Regions from separate parts of the Homo sapiens genome. Here region 1 is linked to region 2. The links come from fine-mapping of genetic effects on gene expression. A gene starts in region 2. The other region holds a variant in brackets. All regions are shown on one strand. Distances are from middle to middle.

Region 1 (5,386 bases), 58 kb before region 2:
CCATTGCACTCCAGCCTGGGTGACAAAGTGAGACCCCATCTCTAAAAATAAATAAATAAATAAAATAATTAAGAAATTAACATCGGTATAATACTATTAACTAAACTACAGGCTTTGTTTGGATTTTACCAGTTGTATCCTTTTTCTGTTCAAGGAGCCAGTCCAGGATACCACATTAATTTAGTCATCATGTCTCCTTAGTATCCTCCAGTCTGTGAAGCTTCTTAGTCTGTCTTTAATTTTCATTACTTGGAAACTTTTGAAGAAGACTGGTGATGTATGTTATAGAATGTCCTTCAATACAGGTTTGATGTTTTCTCAAGATTAAATTGTGGTTATGGATTTTTGAGAAGACTACCACAGAGGTGAAGTGCCCTTCTCATCACATTATATCAGGGGCATATGATGTCAAAGTGACTTAACACTAGTGATATTTCAGTAAAGTCTGCCAGGTTTTTCTACTGTAGAGTTGCTATTTCTCCCTTTCCAAGCCCATTGGACTTAGGAATACCCTTGTAATGAATAAGCATGGAAAGGGAGAAATTTAGGCTCTCTTTCCATGCTTACTTATTTCCTTTCCTTAAAGGAGAAAAATTGAGCTCCACCTCCTAGATTCCTCACATGTGCAGTTCACAATAGGGTTCTCCTATGAGAATCTAATGCTGTTGCTGATGGGACAGGAGGCAGAGCTCGGGCAGTAATGCGAGTGACTCCCGCTGCTCACCTCCTGCTGTGTAGCCTGGTTCCTAACAGGCCATGAACTGGTACAGGCCCATGGCCCGGGGATTGGGGACCCCTGATATAAATGGAAGTATACAATATGTAGGCTTTTGTTTCTGGCTTCTTCACTTTTAAGATTCACCATGTTGGTCAGGTGTAGCAGCTCACACCTGTAATCCTAGCACTTTGGGAGACTGAAGCCAAAGGATTACTTGAGGCTAGACGTTTGAGACCAGCCTGGGCAACAAAGCGAGACCCTGTCTCTACCAAAAAAAGAAAAACGATTCATCCATTTTGTTGCACAAATCAGTAATTTGTTCCTTTTTATTGCTAAGCATCACATGGCAAACCATTTGTTTGTTCATGTAACTGTTGGACACCTTGGTTGTTTCTGTTTTTTCACAATTATGAATAAAGCTGCCTTAAATGTTTGTGTATAAGTTTTTGTGTAGATACGGGTTTCCGTTTCTCTTGAGTAAATACCTAGGAGTGGGAATGCTGGTTGTATGCTTAAGTACATGTTTAACTCTATAAGAAACTGCCAAACTGTTTTCCAAAACCATTTTGCATTCCTACCAGGAATGTATTAGTTACTGTTACTCTGCATCCACACCAGCTTTTGGTATAGTTTTGTTTTCTGTTTTTTTAAATTTTAGCCATTTTAATAAATCTGTAGTGGTAGTTGTATGATTTAATTTCATTTTCCCTGCTGTCTGGCAGTGTTGTGTATCTTTTCATATACTTATGTGTATATCTTCTTTTGTGGTGTGTATGTTCACGTCTTTTGCCCATTTTTAAATTGAGCTGTTTTCTTATTGAGTTTTTTAATGTTACAGATACAAGTTCTTTATTCGATTTGTGATTTGCAAATACATTCTTCTTGTGTCTGGCTTATTTTCTTAATAGTGTCTTTCACAGAGCAGAAATATTTTAACGTTGATGAAGTTCAGTTTATCAGTTTTACAGCCCATGCTTTTAGTGTCATGTCTTCAAACTCTGCCTAACCCCTGGTTGCAAGAAGGTTTGATAATTTTACATTTATATCTTTTTTTTTCCCCCCCAGAGGTAGAGTCTTGCCTTGTCACCCAGCCTGGGATTATACAGTCATGAGCCACCGCATCTGACCCAAGTTTTACATTGATATCTGTGATTCATTATGAATTATCTTTATATAAAGTGTGAGATTTAGATTAAAGTTTATGATTTTGCATATTGATCTCCAAGTCTTCCAAAACAATTTATAGAAAAGATTATTATGCCTGTAATCCCAGCACTTTGGGAGGCCAAGGCAGGTGGATCAGTTGAGCTCAGAAATTTGAGACCAGCCTAGGCAATATGGTGAAACCCTGTCTCTACTAAAAATACAAAAATTAGCAGGGCATAGTGACACACTCCTGTGGTCCTAGCTACTTTGGAGGCTGAGGCAGGAGAATCACTTGAACCCAGGAGGCGGAGGTTGCAGTGAGTTGAGATCATGCCCCTGCACTCCAGCGTGGGCACCAGAGGCAGACCCTATCTCGAAAAAAATACATAATATATTTATATATATATGTATATATGTCCTTTCTCCATTGAACTGCCTTTGTACCTTTGTCAAAAATTAATTGGCCTTGTTTGTGTGAGTGTATTTCTGTACTCTTTATTCTGTTCCCTTGATCTATGTATTATCCTTTTGCCAATACACTGTTTTGACAACTATAGCTTTGTAATAAGTTTAAGATCAGTTAGTATAATTCTTCCAGCTTTATTATTTTTCAGAATTGTTTGGATTATTCTGGTTCATTTGGATTTCTTTTTTAATCCAGTCTGATATGATAGTCTTTGTCTTTTACCTGGATAATTTATTCCACTTATATTTAATATAATTAATCATATTCCAATTCAACTTTCTTCCCCTATGCTTCTTATGTTCTAGATTTTTTTCTTCTCCCTTCTTAACATTCTTTTGGATTCTTTTTATGATTTTACTTTTCCCTCTTTCTGGTTTGGAAATATATGCTATTTTTATTCTGTAATTAGTTGTCATACATCTTGTGACTTGCAGCTATAACTTAGCAAAACCTGATATTATAATTTTATCTTCTTTTCATATAATAAAAGACCTTTAGAAAGAATACTTTGAAATCTCCTCAATACACTGTGTTTTTATTGTTATGTATTCTATGTTTTAAAGCTCCTCAAGGTATTGTTATTCTTTTGTATAATCAGTGTTTGTTTGGAGCTGTCTGTAAATTTTCCTCTTTTTTGCTCTTTATTTTTTCTTTCAACTCAGACCTTCCAAAATGGGATTATTTTTCTTTTTTCTTTAGAGACATTTGCTTGATAACAGAATTTTAATTTGGCGGCTATTTATTTTTTTCAGCACACT[G/T]CAGGTATTAAACTACTTGGCTTCATTGTTGGTTTTGAAAAATCAGCTGTTCTAATGTTGCTCTTTGAATATAATCTGCCTTTTTCTGTACTTGCTTGTCTTTAGTTTTTTGTTTTTGTTTGAGACAAGGTCTTGCTGTTTTGCCCAGGCTGGCCTCCAACTCCTGGGCACAAGCAATCTTCCTGTATCAGCCTCCCAAATAGCTGGGACTATAGGCCTGTGCCATTACACCCAACTCATCTTTGTTTTTTCCTGCTATTTTGTAATTATATGTTTGGTTTTGGATTTCTTTTTATTGATCTTGTTTGGAAATTGTTTGCTTCTGGAATTTGATTGTGTCTGATTGCTTCTGGGATATTTTCAACTGTCTTCAGTTACTGCCTTTATCCCATTCTCTTTTCTGCTAGTACCAATTAAAAGTATATCAAACTGGCTGGGCACGGTGGCTTACGCCTATAATCACAGCACTTTGGGAGGCCAAGATGGGCGGGTCACTTGAGGTCAGAAGTTCAAGACCAGCCTGGCCAAAACATGGCAAAACCCCCTCACTACTAAAAATACAAAAATTAGCCGGGCATGGTGGCATGCACCTGTAGTCCCAGCTACTCTGGAGGCTGAGGCAGGAGAATCACTTGAACCTGGGAGGCAGAGGTTGCAATGAACTGAGATCGTGCCACTGCACTCTAACCTGGGTGGCAGAACAAGACTTTGTGGCAAAAAAAAAAAAAAAAAAAAGTATATCCAACGATTTCACTATATTTTTCCTCTTGTTTTTTGAGATCTGCTAGGACATTGTATTTAAAAATAAATAATTGGCTGGGTGCGGTGGCTCACACCTGTAATCCCAGCACTTTGGGAGGCCAAGGCGGGTGGATCACGAGGTCAGGAGATCGAGACCGTCCTGGCTAACACGGTGAAACCCCGTCTTTACTTAAAAAAAAAAAAAAAAAAAAAATTAGCCGGGCGTGGTGGCGGACTCCTGTAGTCCCAGCTACTCGGGAGGCTGAGGCAGGAGAATGGCGTGAACCCAGGAAGCAGAGCTTGCAGTGAGCTGAGATCAGGCCACTGTACTCCAGCCTGGGTGACAGAGCGAGACTCTGTCTCAAAAAAATAAAAAATAATAAAAATAAAAATAGATATTTGTAGTGATCATTTGAGGCCCACAGTAAGGTACTTTCCTCCATGGAGAGCTTGCTTATATCAGGTATGCATGGGCACTAATCCAGAGACCACCTTAAAACAAGCTTAAGATATGATATTCCCTTCAGTAGGGCTTTAATTCCTCCCTGGATCTTCCACTCCCTAGTCACTCTCACCATTAGGAAGTATGCCTCTGAAGTCCCACCTTATGAAGAGGGCCTCCTATTAGACTTTTTGTCTTGTGAGAGCCCTGGGCTTTGGTTTATGTGAGAACAAAATTCTAATTTTCAGGATCAACAAAGGCTTTCCAGGCTTCCTTGCTTGCTTATATCTCTGGGTTTGCATTTTCTATTCCCTTTTGGCTATAATTACTTCTCTGTCTTATTTAAAGATGAGTGGGCCAGGTGTGGTGACACATGCCTGTAGCCTCAGTTACTTGGGAGGCTGAGGTGGGAGGATTACTTGAGCCCAGGAATTTGAAGTGGCAGTGAGCTACGATTGTGCCACTGCACTCCAGCTTGGGCAACAAGGAACTGATTAGTGTTGGAAGTAGAGAAAAGAAAATAAAGAGAAAGAATTCCAAAGCTTGTGAATTAATGATACTGTTTGTTTTAAGCACAAAATGGTAACAGTCGAGTAAACTAATAGTCTCCAAATCAGATATAAAAAGGTTGCTGACCTGATGTGCAAAAAAAGCACATCAGGTGCTTTTTTACACCTGATGCCACGTTGCATGTGGCATCCAATGATGTGTTTCTTATAGAAGATAACAAAATGTGCCAGCCTTTGGTCATTTTAGGGTGCAAAATTATAGGTCTTTAAAATTCTTAACTTGCTTTAAAGTGTTACGCTTTGCAATTTCTTGTTTTAATGTTTTCCATCTGAATAATTCCTGTGCGTACTTTAAGTGCAGTTTTTTTTTTCTCTTACAGTTTTTCCCCATTTTAGGTACTCCATAAATATTTGTTGAATGAATGATGGGTTGGTGATAGTTTAAATACCCTTCAACGTCTGTACACCACCATGACTTAATTGTTTCAAGCACTGATCACTTGAGATTGTAATGGTCTGTTTTCTTTGTCTGAGGGCAGAGATACTTTCTCCAGGACCAAGAGAAAGAATGCCTTTCTGGCAGTCAGGCACACATTTCCTGGTACA
Region 2 (5,386 bases):
CATGAAGCGGGACATTTTTTGAAAGTAAATTCTGGCCCAAGCTTCACAACGACCACACAACTGTTTAGTCCTAGAGTTGTGGTGGTGGGAATGGGGTGGGGGTCACTGTTCCATCACTACCAAAAGCAAGAATCCAGCTGGCTGGATGACCAGCGCAGTAAACTGAGAAGGGAATAAATATCTCAAATTGCTTGAGCACGTTACTCTTAAACTGGGATGACTTAAATCTTCCTTCAGTGGGCACTAAGCATCTTTTAACCTCAATGATGATTTATTTCATTTTATTTATTTATTTTTTGAGATGGAGTCTCACTCCGTCTCTTAGGCTGGAGTGCAGTGGCGCAATCTTGGCTCACTGCAACCTCTGCCTCCCAGGTTCAAGCAATTCTCCTGCCTCAGCCTCCCAAGTAGCTGGGATTACAGGCAGGCACCACCATGCCCAGCTAATTTTTGTATTTTTAGTAGAGATGGGGTTTCACCATGTTGGTGAGGCTGGTCTTGAACTCCTGACCTCAAGTGATCTGCAGCCCTTCACCTCCCAAAGTGCTGGGATTACAGGCATGAGCCTCACAGATGATTTAGAACAAAGACTAGAAATGTTTTCAAACTTCTAGTATTAATAATTTTGCATTAAGGCATCTGTGTAAATGTGATACTTTAAATTCCTATAATGTTCAAGATAATTTCAAGAGCTTGGCACTGTGATTCACGCCTGTAATCCCAGAGCTTTGGGAGGCGAAGGCAGTTTGAGACCGGCCTGGGCAACATAGGGAGATTCCCCACCCCCTCTATAAAAACTAAAAAAACTAGCCAGGCATGGTAGTGTGTACCTACAGTCTCAGCTACTCGGGAGGCTGCAACAGGAGGCTAGCTTGAGCCCAGGAGCTTGAGGCTGCAGTGAGCTATGATCGCTATTGCACTCCAGTCTGGGTGATAGAGTGAGACTCTGTCTCAAAAAAAAAAAAAAGATAATTTTGAGAATTCTAACAGATTATTCTTGTACTAATTACAAATATGTATTTGAATAGATTTAGACTTTTGATTTTAAGATGAAATCTCGTTTGTATTGACACATTTGAAAGCACTCATGACTCAGTATTCTTATAAATGTATTACATTTACAAGAATTACACAAGGACTTGAAAGGCTTTGTTAGAAACCTGTGATACTTAGAAAAACGAATTGAATTTATAAATGCAGTTTCAAATGTTCAAAGGATTTTAATTAGCTTAGTTTATTAATGGGACCAAATAACTGATATAATTTACTAGATTTATGAATAGAACTGTAAAACTTGGCTGTGCGCGGTGGCTCACGCCTGTAATCCCAGCACTTTGAGAGGCTGAGGCGGGCGGATCACGAGGTCAGGAGTTTCATGGGCTGGAGGTCTCAGGATAATAAAGAACTGTTGTGGTTGGGGGTGGGAGGTGGAAGAGAGTCATCAAGCAACTGGAATTATGGGAACTTCAGCATGAAGACCTAGCACTAGAAATTCGGGAGGCCACAATCACAATATCAGGGATATAACCAAGGGAATGGATGTCTAATTGGAAAGAAAGGAATATCACTGAAGACGAGAAGGAAATCAGACCTGATAAGCCAGAGCGCTGCTTTAGATGAGTGGCCACTATTTCGCACAACTTAAGGGGGCACGGTTCACGTGAACGTCTACGTAAATGGCGCTCCCAGGCCTTGTGCAGTGCATAACCTGCGGACCCGTATGACATGAACCTGCTAGATCCCCAAGTACCCAAGAACTGATGACAGGAGTTCGTGTGGGGAGACGAGACAGGAGGTAAAAAAATAATCCTTGGTAAGCAAAAATTGGTCATAATTGTGGAGTATTTACTATATGCTTGGTGATGTTCTAAACACTCTCAATAACCTTGTGAGTTCAATATTTTTATTATCATCAATACTATTTTACAGATGAAAGAAGCAAAGGAAACGACAGCTGGTCTCGAGCACACTCGCTCAAGAGCGCCACACTCTACACCGTAGAGTCTACAGCGCAGACGAAGCCAACTCCTCAGAGCGCTCACCGCGCTCTTTCCGCAGCCTCCCCCGCCGCCGGCCGGGCGTAGCGCAGGGTCACGTGCCGGCGCGGGGCGGGGCCAGCGGGGCGCCTGCGCGCCTGCGCGCCGCTGGCCGACGGAGGGGAGCCTGCCGATGCCGAGCGGGTGCTACGTCCCGCGGTCGGAGCCGCGTCTTCTCCCGGCTCCGCCACCAGCCGGGGCTCGGGTGGGGGCCCGGGGCCCCGGGGCATGGCCCTCCGGAGTGCGCAGGGCGACGGCCCCACCTCCGGCCACTGGGACGGCGGCGCGGAGAAGGCAGGTACGGAAGCCGACCGGGGCGCCGGGAGCGGCCTGCGAGGGCGGCCCGGGGGGCAGGGGCAGCTGGCGGAGGCGGCGCCGGAGGGGCGCGGGCTGGGGACCCGGGGCTGCTGCGGGGTTCCGGGCGGCGAGAGGAACAGGCTGAGGGCCCAGGGCACGTCTGATGAGGAGAGGGCCTGGAACTGGGGGGGCTCGGGCGGGTGCCGAGCTGACCCGAGGGAGCCTGGCGGCAGAGTCGCGTCCCCAGGCAGAAGAGCGGGCGGCGGCTTCGCGCCCCGGCTTTCTTCCATCTGGAGAGGACTGGGACTCCTCGAGCGCGGAGGCCAGGCCCACCCCGTCCCAGGCGTCCGCCACGTCCGCAGGCTCCCGGAGCCGCCTCCCCGAGGGGTATCAGCTCTCCCGAACTGCATTCACCGTCGCCGGCTTGATTGACGCGCTGCCCGCGTACCGCCGATGTAATTACCACACAGTTCTTCCTTTAAGGTGCACAGTTCAGTGATTCTTAGAAAATTCACAAAGTTGTGCAGCCATCGCCGCTGTCTGATTCCAAAACGAAACCCTTACCCATTAATAGGCACTCCGCGTTCCCCGGTATTCACGACGCCTGGCAACCACGAATCGACTTTCTGTCTGTCTTCTGCCACCTATTTTAATGTTATTCAATTGTGTAAAAGCGGCCGGGCACCATGGCTCGCGCCTGTAATCCCAGCGCTTTGGGAGGCCATGGTTGGAGGATCGATTGAGGCCAGGATTTCGAGATCAGGCTGGGAAACACAGCGAGGCCTCATCTCTACAAAAAGTTTTTAAAAGTTAGTCGGGTGTGGAGGCTCGAGCCTGTGATCCCAACGACTCTGGAGGCTGAGGCAGGAGGATCGCTTGAGCCCAGGACTTAGAGGCTACTCTATGATTGCGCCACTGCACTCCGGCCTGGGTGACAGATGGAGACCCTATCTCAATAATAATAATAAGTAAATAATTGTATAAAAAGCGCTTCTATTTTTATACTCTTTTAGTTTGGACAATTTCTGTGAAATCATGTTTTTGTTGCACATGATGTTCTCAAATGTTTTTCATTCAATAAATACATGACAGTTAAAATTATGAATGTACACCGTGAACCAAGTTAAATAATCTTTTTTCCTTGAGGAAGACTAAGGTGACTTTCCCTATTTCCAGTCCTCTGATGGATGGTGCCCGTAACAGAGCCAAACACGTTATTAATACAACCCACATATTTTGAGGAAGCTCCTGGTATCTATATTTTATTTTATATTTTATTTGGGCTCATTTTCTGTTTTTCCCTTTTTCTTATGTTCTGATACTGAATGGAAGTGGAGCTCTGAACCCTTTGGCACCGTAACCCTTTAATTACTGGTGTTTGTGTGATGTCTGTCCTCATGGCATAACAGTCAATGCCCTAGGCAGCATGGGTCTTGTGACCTGTTGGCAGTGCAGCTGTGTATCTGTTGCAAGACTTTACCCCCTCTAGTTTCCTTGATTTTGCTTCTCTGGATGAATGGGACAAATTTAAAGATGAGGTTTTTTGTTTTTGTTATTGTTTTGTTTTTTAATCATATCAGAGTATTGTTGGCAAAGTTACTAATGCTAGAATCCCTCTTTTGTAGCGTTTATAGTCAGATTGGTTTACTTACTAGACTGTTTTTTTCCATTGTAGTGAAACATTCTTTCTTGGTACCTGCTTTTTCCAGGTAGTTAACAGAATCTTTGCTAATTTGGATACTGTTTTGTAGAAACTACTAATGAAGACCTCCAGAAACAGAGGCTAGTTTGTTTTATTTTGTGTTTAATAGAACTCTTACCCAGACTGAAATAAGGTTTTCCTCTCCTGCTGTGGTCTTCTGGTACAGACGTGGAGTTAAAGCATTTTTTTTTTTTTTTTTTGAGAGATGGGATCTTGCCCTGTCACCCGGGTTGGAGTGCAGTGTCACAGTCAAAGCTCACTGTCATCTCCCAACTCCTGGACTTAAGTGCTCCTCCCACCTCAGCCTCCTGAGTAGCTGGGACTACAGGCATAAATTTTCAAGTTAATTTCCAATGTCAATATCAGTAGTTGTGGGTGGGTGTAGGGGTATGTCTGTCTCCCTCCCTCCACACAAAACGGCCCCCCCCTTCCATTGTTTTAAGACTAGCATTTCTTAATTTGAGCTTAATTTCAGTTTAAAGACTGTAAAGCCTTTATGATAATGCAGGCTTAAACCAAATAATCAGTATGGAATTTTGTACGCTCACACGAGATTCCATTATATAAATTAGTTGATCCAAGTTAGTATTTGTTTTGGTGATATGAAAAAATATATGAAAAAACTTTTAGAGGAGGCATGGATAGTGGTCATCTTTAGTTGTTATCGTCCCTTCCCAGTGTATTAAGTGCCCTAATCCAGGTGATTTTGGACATGCCTATTACTCTGAGGGGGCAGAAATCTTTACCTGGATTCTGTAGCCAGAGTTGGGAGAAGTTTAAGCCAATAGTGGGTTGTGTCATCTTTATCTGAACCATTAAGAACCACAGTTCAGATGAAGTGTCCCATTGTTAAAATTAGCATTTTAGGGAGTTGAGTCTGATCTCCCTCCCTGACTACAAAACCCTGTTGCAGTTGTTGCTATACCTATTGCTGTGGTGCCCCTCAAATAAAGTCTGCTTTGCCCTCTTTATAAATAAATAAATAAATAAATAAAAATAAGCGTTCTAATGAAGAGTAGGCCAAAGTCATACCTATCTTCCTTTGTTGAATGAATTACTTTTCAGGCATCAGGGATTTATTTATAGCAGTCTTATATTTTGCAGCCAGCTGTAGGACGGTCATTCGTTCCATCATGGTTATGATAGCCAAGACCTCTACTATAAAGGAATTTGGAAGGTATCAGCTTTGGAATAATAGTGCACTATCTTGTAAGTGGGGCAATAAAGAAATTGGAGAAGAAAGGATTGAGGGAGATTAGAATGACATACATTCTACCTCTAGATGAAATGTGGGCTTTTATTCCAAGCCAGATACAGCGTTCTCAAGTCCAGAAATGTGTGTCCTGCTCTA

Evidence for each region. PIP is the estimated chance that this variant, and not a neighbour inherited with it, causes the effect. A credible set is the group of variants that fine-mapping cannot tell apart.
Region 1: its variant is the best candidate, but not a certain one, in a credible set for the expression of TBC1D20 in whole blood (INTERVAL, PIP 0.65).

What each region holds. Positions count from the first base shown.
Region 1 is chr20:517,371-522,756 of GRCh38, reverse strand. All of the region lies in intron 2 of CSNK2A1 (casein kinase 2 alpha 1), which reads left to right. Among named protein-coding and RNA genes, the nearest start is that of CSNK2A1, 24 kb to the left of the region's middle. The variant G/T (reference allele first, on the strand shown) is at 3,089.
Region 2 is chr20:459,284-464,669 of GRCh38, reverse strand. TBC1D20 (TBC1 domain family member 20) reads left to right here and starts at 2,137. Exons shown (of 8, transcript NM_144628.4): 1 at 2,137-2,334. The coding sequence starts at 2,265. RefSeq lists silencers at 1,698-1,767, 2,048-2,537, 2,606-2,754.